Linked DNA regions of Homo sapiens. The protein of the gene in region 2 purifies or fractionates together with the protein of the main gene of each other region. This does not show direct contact. Each region holds a gene or a part of one and is shown on either strand. Other genes may lie near its edges.

Evidence for each region. The genes of interacting proteins can lie anywhere in the genome.
Region 1: the proteins of LRRC10 (region 2) and A2ML1 purify together in Homo sapiens (affinity purification with mass spectrometry; one large-scale study listed by BioGRID and IntAct). This does not show direct contact.

Annotation. Positions count from the first base shown.
Region 1 is NC_000012.12:8,825,621-8,829,120, reverse strand, and holds part of A2ML1 (alpha-2-macroglobulin-like protein 1 isoform 1 precursor), read right to left. Parts: intron 1-3,500. UniProt on the Homo sapiens protein: Is able to inhibit all four classes of proteinases by a unique 'trapping' mechanism. This protein has a peptide stretch, called the 'bait region' which contains specific cleavage sites for different proteinases.
Region 2 is NC_000012.12:69,608,108-69,612,070, reverse strand, and holds LRRC10 (leucine-rich repeat-containing protein 10), read left to right. Parts: upstream 1-1,163; 5' UTR 1,164-1,232; coding exon 1,233-2,066; 3' UTR 2,067-3,507; downstream 3,508-3,963. UniProt on the Homo sapiens protein: May play important roles in cardiac development and/or cardiac function.

The DNA.
Region 1 (3,500 bases), about 61 Mb from region 2:
GTGATCACAGTGCCTGGTTTTAACTTTATATCACTGAAAGAGGCACTGAAGAGGGTAGAAAAGACACACTTGAATTGCTGATTCACCCCCTCCCCGCCATCCCCCAGCAGTGACTGTGGTACAGAGACAGAATCGATGAGCTTGAGGGCGGGAGAGCACAGTGACTGTGGGACTTGGCTTTAGAATGCAATGCTGCCCAATCACAGGGGAAAGCACACAGGGCAGAACTCAGCCAGTGCCCATGGAGGGAGCATTTAGACCAGCGTTAGCCAGGGGTGAACTGCCCATCCCAGCGGTTGGAAGCTGAGTTCCGATTAGCCCCTGGGGCTCTAAATACTCAGCAGTGATAGCTGGGCAGTACTTGTCGTGGGCCTTGGGTGAGACTCAGAGACATGCTGGCTTCCAGTGATTCAGCACATTCCCAGCTGTGGTGACTATGGGGAGAGACTCCTTCTACTTGAGAAAAGGAGAGGGAAGAGTCAAGGGGACTTTGTCTTGCAGCTTAGGTACCAGCTCAGCCACAGTGGGGTACAGCACCAAGCAGGCCCTTGGGGTCGCCAGTTATGGGCTGTGGCTCTTGGATGCCATTTCTGGACCTGCTGTTTGTCAGAGGAGAGCTCACTGCCCTGAAAAGAGAGTCCCAGGCCAGGCACCATTCACCACAAGCTGGTGAAAGGAGACTTTGGGCCTCGAGAGAATACTGGAAGTATCCAGGCAGTACTCCTGTGGGCCTGGAGTAGTGGTGGCCACAGAGAGAGACTCCTCTGTGAAAAGGGGAAGGAAGAGTGGGAAGGACTTTGTCTTATGGCTTGGGTGCCAACTCAGCTGCAGTAGAACAGAACACCAGGTAGATTCCTAAGGTTTCTGACTCCAGGCCCTGGCTCGCAGATTACATCTCTGGACCTTCCAGGGTCATGGGGAACTCACCACCCTGAAGGGGAGGACACAAGCCTGGCTGGCTTTGTCACCTGCTGACTGTAGAGCCCTAGGGCCTTGAGCAAACATGGGCAGTAGCCAGGTACTGGTTACCACAGGCCTTGGGTGAGACACAGTACGGTGCTGGCTTCAGATCTGACCCAGTGCAGTCCCAATGCTGGTGGCCACAGGGGTGCTTGTGTCACCCCTCTCTCCAGGCAGCTCAGCACAAAGAGAGAAACTCTGTTTGTTTTGGAGAAAGTAAGGGAAGAGAACAGGAGTCTCCTCCTGGTAATCTGGAATTCTTCCAGATCTTATCCAAGACCATCAAGGAGGTACCTCTATGAGCCTTCAAGAGCCACAGAGATACTGAGCATGGGGTCCTCCCTAATGCAGATGAACTGCAGAGTCCAAACACTTAGATTACGACACCCAAGTCCCTTCAAATACCTGGAAAGTCTGCCCAAGGAGGACAGGTACAAACAAGTCCAGAATGCCAAGACTACAATAAATACCTAACTCTTCAATGCCCAGACACCAATGAACATCCACATCAAGACCATGTTGGAAAAAATTACCTCACCAGATGAACTAAATAAGGCACCAGCAACCAATCTCCCAGAAACAAAGATAGTGATCTTTCAGATCGAGAATTCAAAATAGCTGTTTTGAGGAAACTCAACAAAATTTTAGATAACACAGAGAAAGAATTCAGAATCTTATCAGATAAATTTAACAAAGAGAAAAAAAAAGAGGTATTGACTTTAAAGAGGAGGTTGAGAGAGAAAATGAGATGGAAAGTTTATTCAAAGTGAAAATAACAGAGAACTTTCCAAACCTAGAGAAAGATATCAATATTATTATTATTTGAGACAGTCTCGCTCTGTTGCCCAGGCTGGAGTGCAGTAATGTGATCTTGGCTCATGTGACCTCCGCCTCCCTGGTTCAAGTGATTCTCCTGCCTCAGCCTCCCCAGTAGCTGGGATTACAGGCACAGGCCACCTTGCTTGGCTAATTTGGTATTTTTAGTAGAGACAGGGTTTTGCCATGTTGGCCAGGCTGGTCTCGAAATACTCATCTCAGGTGATTTGCCCACCTCAGCCTCCCAAAGTGCTGGGATTACAAGCATGAGCCACTGAGCCCAGCTGAGAAAGATATCAATATTAATTACAAGATTATAGAACACCAAGCAGATTTAGCCCAAATGAGTCTACCTCAAGACATTTAATAATCAAACTCCCAAACATCAAGGAATAAAAAACAAAAAAGAATCCTAAAAGTGCAAGAAGACAGACGTGGTGGCTTACGCGTGTAACCCCAGCACTTTGGGAGGCTGAGTGGGGAGGATAACTTGAGGTCAGGAGTTGGAGACCAGCCTGGCCAACATGGCGAAACTCCATCTCTACCAAAAATACAAAAATTAGCCAGGGGTGGTGGCGCTCACCTGTAAACCCAGCTACTCGGGAGGCTGAGGCAGGAGAATCACTTGAACCCAGGAGGCAGAGGCTGCAATGAGCAACCATTTATTGCATTCCAGCCTGCGCGGCAGAATGAGACTCCATCTCAAAAAACAAAAAAACAAAAACAAAAATTAGCTGGGCATGGTGGCGCATGCCTGTACTCCCAGCTACTTGGGATGCTGAAGCACAAGAATCACTTGAACCCAGGAGGCAGAGGTTGCAGTAAGCAGTGATCCCGCCACTGCACTCCACAGCCTGGGCAACAGAGGGAGACTCTGTCTCAAAAACAAAAAAAATTCAGTAACATTTCTATATGCCAACAGGGAACAATCTGAAAAAGAAATTAAGAAAGATAATTCCATTTACAATAGCTATAAATAATATAAAATACCTAGGAATAAACTTTACCAAAGAAGTGAAAGATCTCAACAATAAAAACTATAAAATACTGATGAAAGAAATTGAAGAGGACACACAAAAACATGAAAAGAGATTTCATGTTTCTGGATTGGAAGAATTGATATTGTTAAAATTCCGTACTACCTAAGGCAATCTACAGGTTCATTGCAATCCCTATCAGAATACTAATGACATTCTTCACAGAAATTCTACATCCTAAATCTTAGGACTTTTGTAAAAAAAATCATAAAATTTTTATGGAACCATAAAAGACCTAAAATAACCAAATCTATTCTGAACAAAAAGAACAAAGCTGGAAGAATCACATTACATGACTTCAAATTATACTGCAAAGCTATAGTAACCAAAACAGCATGGTACTGTCATAAAAACAAATACATAGACCAATGGAACAGAATAGAGAACCCAGAAACATGTCTAGGGTGAACTCATTTTTGACAAAGGTGACAAGTGTATACACTGGAGAAAGCACAGGCTCTTCAATAAATGGTTCTGGGAAAATTGGATATCCATATGCAGAAGAATGAAACTAGACCCTCATCTCTCTCCATATAGAAAAATCAAGTCAAAATGGATGAAAGATTTAAATCTAATACCTCAATCTATGAAACTATTATATATAAGAAAACTTTGGGGAAACTCTCCAGAACATTGGTCTGGGCAAAGATTTCTTGAGTAATACCCAAGGAGCACAAGAAACCAAAG
Region 2 (3,963 bases):
CCGCCTCCTGGGTTCACGCCATTCTCCTGCCTCAGCCTCCCAAGTACTTGGGATTATAGGTGTGTGCCACCACACCCAGCTAATTTTTGTTTTTTTTAGTAGAGATGGGGTTTTACCATGTAGCCTAAGCTGACCTCAAACTCCTGGGCTTAAGTGATTGGCTCACCTTGGCCTCCCAAAGTGCTGGGATTACAGGCGTGAGCCACCACACCTGGCCTGCTCCAGCAACACTTCTAAGGACGGTTTCTAAAGAAATGAGTGGATTGCTGCTCACATCTGTATGCACATGGATGTTTATAATAGTCATGCTTTGTAAACAACCTAGATGCCTAACCACAGAAAACTGTTTAAATTACTGCACATCCATGTAATGGAATACTATGCAGGGGTTTAAAATAATTGCATAGATATCTGCAAACATGAAAATATGTCCATGATACGTCATGATTAAAAAATAAGGTTCCTGGTCAAGTACCATGGCTCACGCCTGTAATCCCAGCATTTTGAGAGGCCAGGGCGGGCAGATCTCTTGAGCCCAGGAGTTCAAGACCAGCCTGGGCAACATGGCGAAACCTCATCTCTACAAAAAATACAAAAATTAGCTGGGCACGGTGGTGTGCACCTGTAGTCCCAGCTACTCAGGAGGCTGAGGTGTGAGGATTGCTGGAGCCAGGGAGGTAGAAGCTGTAGTGAGCCAAGATTGCACCACTGCACTCCCGCCTGTGTGACAGAATGAGACCCTGTCAAAAAAAAAAAAAAAAAAAGCTCCTAAAGTGCAATTTTAAAAAACAAATGATTACTTATAGCGAAAAGACTAGAGGACACATGCAAATGTGTACAGTATTTATCTCTGGGTAATAGAACTATGGGTGTTTTTCATTTTCTTCTTTTACACCTTTATGTAATGTGTTAATATTTTATCATTAGGGAAAAAAACAGCAAAGCTATTTTCAGCTTGAAATGAAAAAAGGTTGATAAAGGGGATTGGGGCTTAGGTGATTAAAGGCAAGCATGTGAGTCAGACATGGCCTCCCAGCCCCTGCCGGACTGTTGCGCTGTCGCCGGACACTCAAGTTGCTATCAGGAGCACTTTTCTCTGTCAAAGTGACTGGCTTTTGTCATGCAATCCCCAAGTTATAATGGGAGGGTAGGATAGGCCCCAGAGCAGTCAGCTGAGCCAGCCCCGCTCAGTGAGTCTGTCCTCTGGGGCTCGCCATGCCCCCAGCCTCCGCATGGGGAACACCATCAGGGCCCTCGTGGCCTTCATCCCTGCTGACCGTTGCCAGAACTATGTGGTCAGGGACCTCCGTGAGATGCCGCTGGACAAGATGGTGGATCTGAGTGGGAGCCAGTTACGCCGCTTCCCCCTGCACGTGTGCTCCTTCAGGGAGCTGGTCAAGCTCTACCTGAGCGACAACCACCTCAATAGCCTGCCTCCGGAGCTGGGGCAGCTACAGAACCTGCAGATTCTGGCCTTGGATTTCAACAACTTCAAGGCTCTGCCCCAGGTGGTGTGCACCTTGAAACAGCTCTGCATCCTCTACCTGGGCAACAACAAACTCTGCGACCTCCCCAGTGAGCTGAGCCTGCTCCAGAACCTCAGGACCCTGTGGATCGAGGCCAACTGCCTCACCCAGCTGCCGGATGTGGTCTGTGAGCTGAGTCTCCTTAAGACTCTGCATGCCGGCTCCAACGCCCTGCGTTTGCTGCCAGGCCAGCTCCGGCGCCTCCAGGAGCTGAGGACCATCTGGCTCTCGGGCAACCGGCTAACTGACTTTCCCACTGTGCTGCTTCACATGCCCTTCCTGGAGGTGATTGATGTGGACTGGAACAGCATCCGTTACTTCCCCAGCCTGGCGCACCTGTCAAGTCTGAAGCTGGTCATCTATGACCACAATCCTTGCAGGAACGCACCCAAGGTGGCCAAAGGTGTGCGCCGTGTGGGGAGATGGGCAGAGGAGACGCCAGAGCCCGACCCTAGAAAAGCCAGGCGCTATGCGTTGGTCAGAGAGGAAAGCCAGGAGCTACAGGCACCAGTCCCTCTACTTCCTCCTACCAACTCCTGAGGAGCTTCAGTTGCAAGTCAATGCCAAGGACCCAACTGCAGCATGTTCTGGAAGCCTCTCCATTGGAGTGGAAAGGATGGCTCTGGGTCATTTGGGAGTGGCTCTGCTAGTAGAGACTGATGGAGAGAGCCAGGTGGAATGCCATAAATCACACTGAGAAAATATTTCTGGCAAACAGCTCCTCTTCCAGAGGGGAGTTGTGTGCCAATGATGGCATGACAATCCAGAGATCATAACTTCTTTGCAAGAAAACAGCTTCTCCACACATGTATTTTGAAACACTGAAGAGCAAAAGGGGCTGGGACACTCTGAACTCCTGCACTCTCCAGAAGTGACTGGTCATGAAGCTCATGAGCTCCTCAAATAAGGTATTTGCCATAGAACTAAATATTCTGGTGGTCTGTCTCTTTGCAGGACATATTTTCTTTACTGTAAATGACCATAAACAGTATCAATGTATCACTGAGGCCACCGAAAAGGACATTTCTACCTAGGCAATCAGTCAGATTCACAGAAAAAAGTTGTTTGTTGTTGTAAAGGCTCAAGATGAAACTCTTTCCCCAGCAGTTTAGTGCCTGCTGAAAAGATCCCTGATGGACAATACTTCTTGGTGGACTCCAGCTGCCCCTTTTATTATTATTAGAGACAAGGTCTCACTCTGTTGCTAGGCTGGAGTGCAGTGGCACAATCATGGCTCACTGCAGCCCCGAACTACTGGGCTCAAGCCTTCCTCCCGCCTCAGCCTGCCCAGTAACTGGTACTACAGATGTGCACACCTGGCTAAGTCTTTAATTTTTTCGTAGAGATGAGGTCTTGCTATGTTGCCCAAGCTAGTTTCAAACTCCTGGGCTCAAGCGATGCTCCTGCTTCAGCCTCCCAAAGTGCTGGGGTTACAGGCATGAGCCACCACACCCAGCCTTCAGCTGTCACCTTAAACTTGACAGTGGCTCATGCTGATTTAGTTCATTTTCCCTAAAAGGTTTGTCCCAAGATCTGCTCCCAACAGTTGACTGTCACTGACAATGTTGGAAGTCATCTGGAAAAGAGAACCTCTGTGGTAATGTGGTCTCATTAAAGTCAAGCCTTGTTGTGATTCCTGTCTACCTCCCTGAAGCAAAGCCCTTCTGTTTATTCACACTAATGAGCCAGAGCTGAGCTAAATTGAATCCCTGTCCTTGGAGGAAAACCACATTTCCAGAAGCATGTTAGTTTAAAGGTAGTAGGTGAGAAATGTGTTCTCTTGAAACAAGCACTTTGAAATTTGAATAGGAAGTTGTAGTGTATATAGGAAGTCTCTGCCTCTTTCGCCTAGTATCTCTGCCTTTGTTTCAATTTGTTTTGATTTTTACAGACTGTTTTGACAATGTATAAACCAAGGTATTTTGTTTTTTGGAAGTATGTAAATTGTGACCTTCCCACAAATATATAAACTTTAAAGAAATTGTTGTCAGTGGGTAATTTAATAATACAATTCTTTATGTACTTGAACGTTTTCAGCAAACAAGGACACAAAAAGTGTTATCTTAACTAAAACATACAGTACCAAGTTTTTAAAAGGATGTTTTCTGTAAAAGCATCTTAACCCAACAAAGTTTGGTTCTAAAATGACATTACACAGCAGACCTATTTTCATGTATGTCTTCCTACCAGAAATATTTCCTGCTAAACTAGAGGAAGGATGATGTTGCATAATTCCTTCCTATCGTCACCTCCCATCTGCAGAGCATTTGCAACCCATTGATCAGACTGCCAAAAAAGGTCCCTTTAATCATTTAATGTAATAGGTTTAAACTTTCAGGTCAAACATATTTAACTCCTTTAGAAACAAGTCCATATTTCTGTTGGACAGTTAGGATTTATCTCATTCCTAATGACGGAAGCCAAATTATACTCAGCT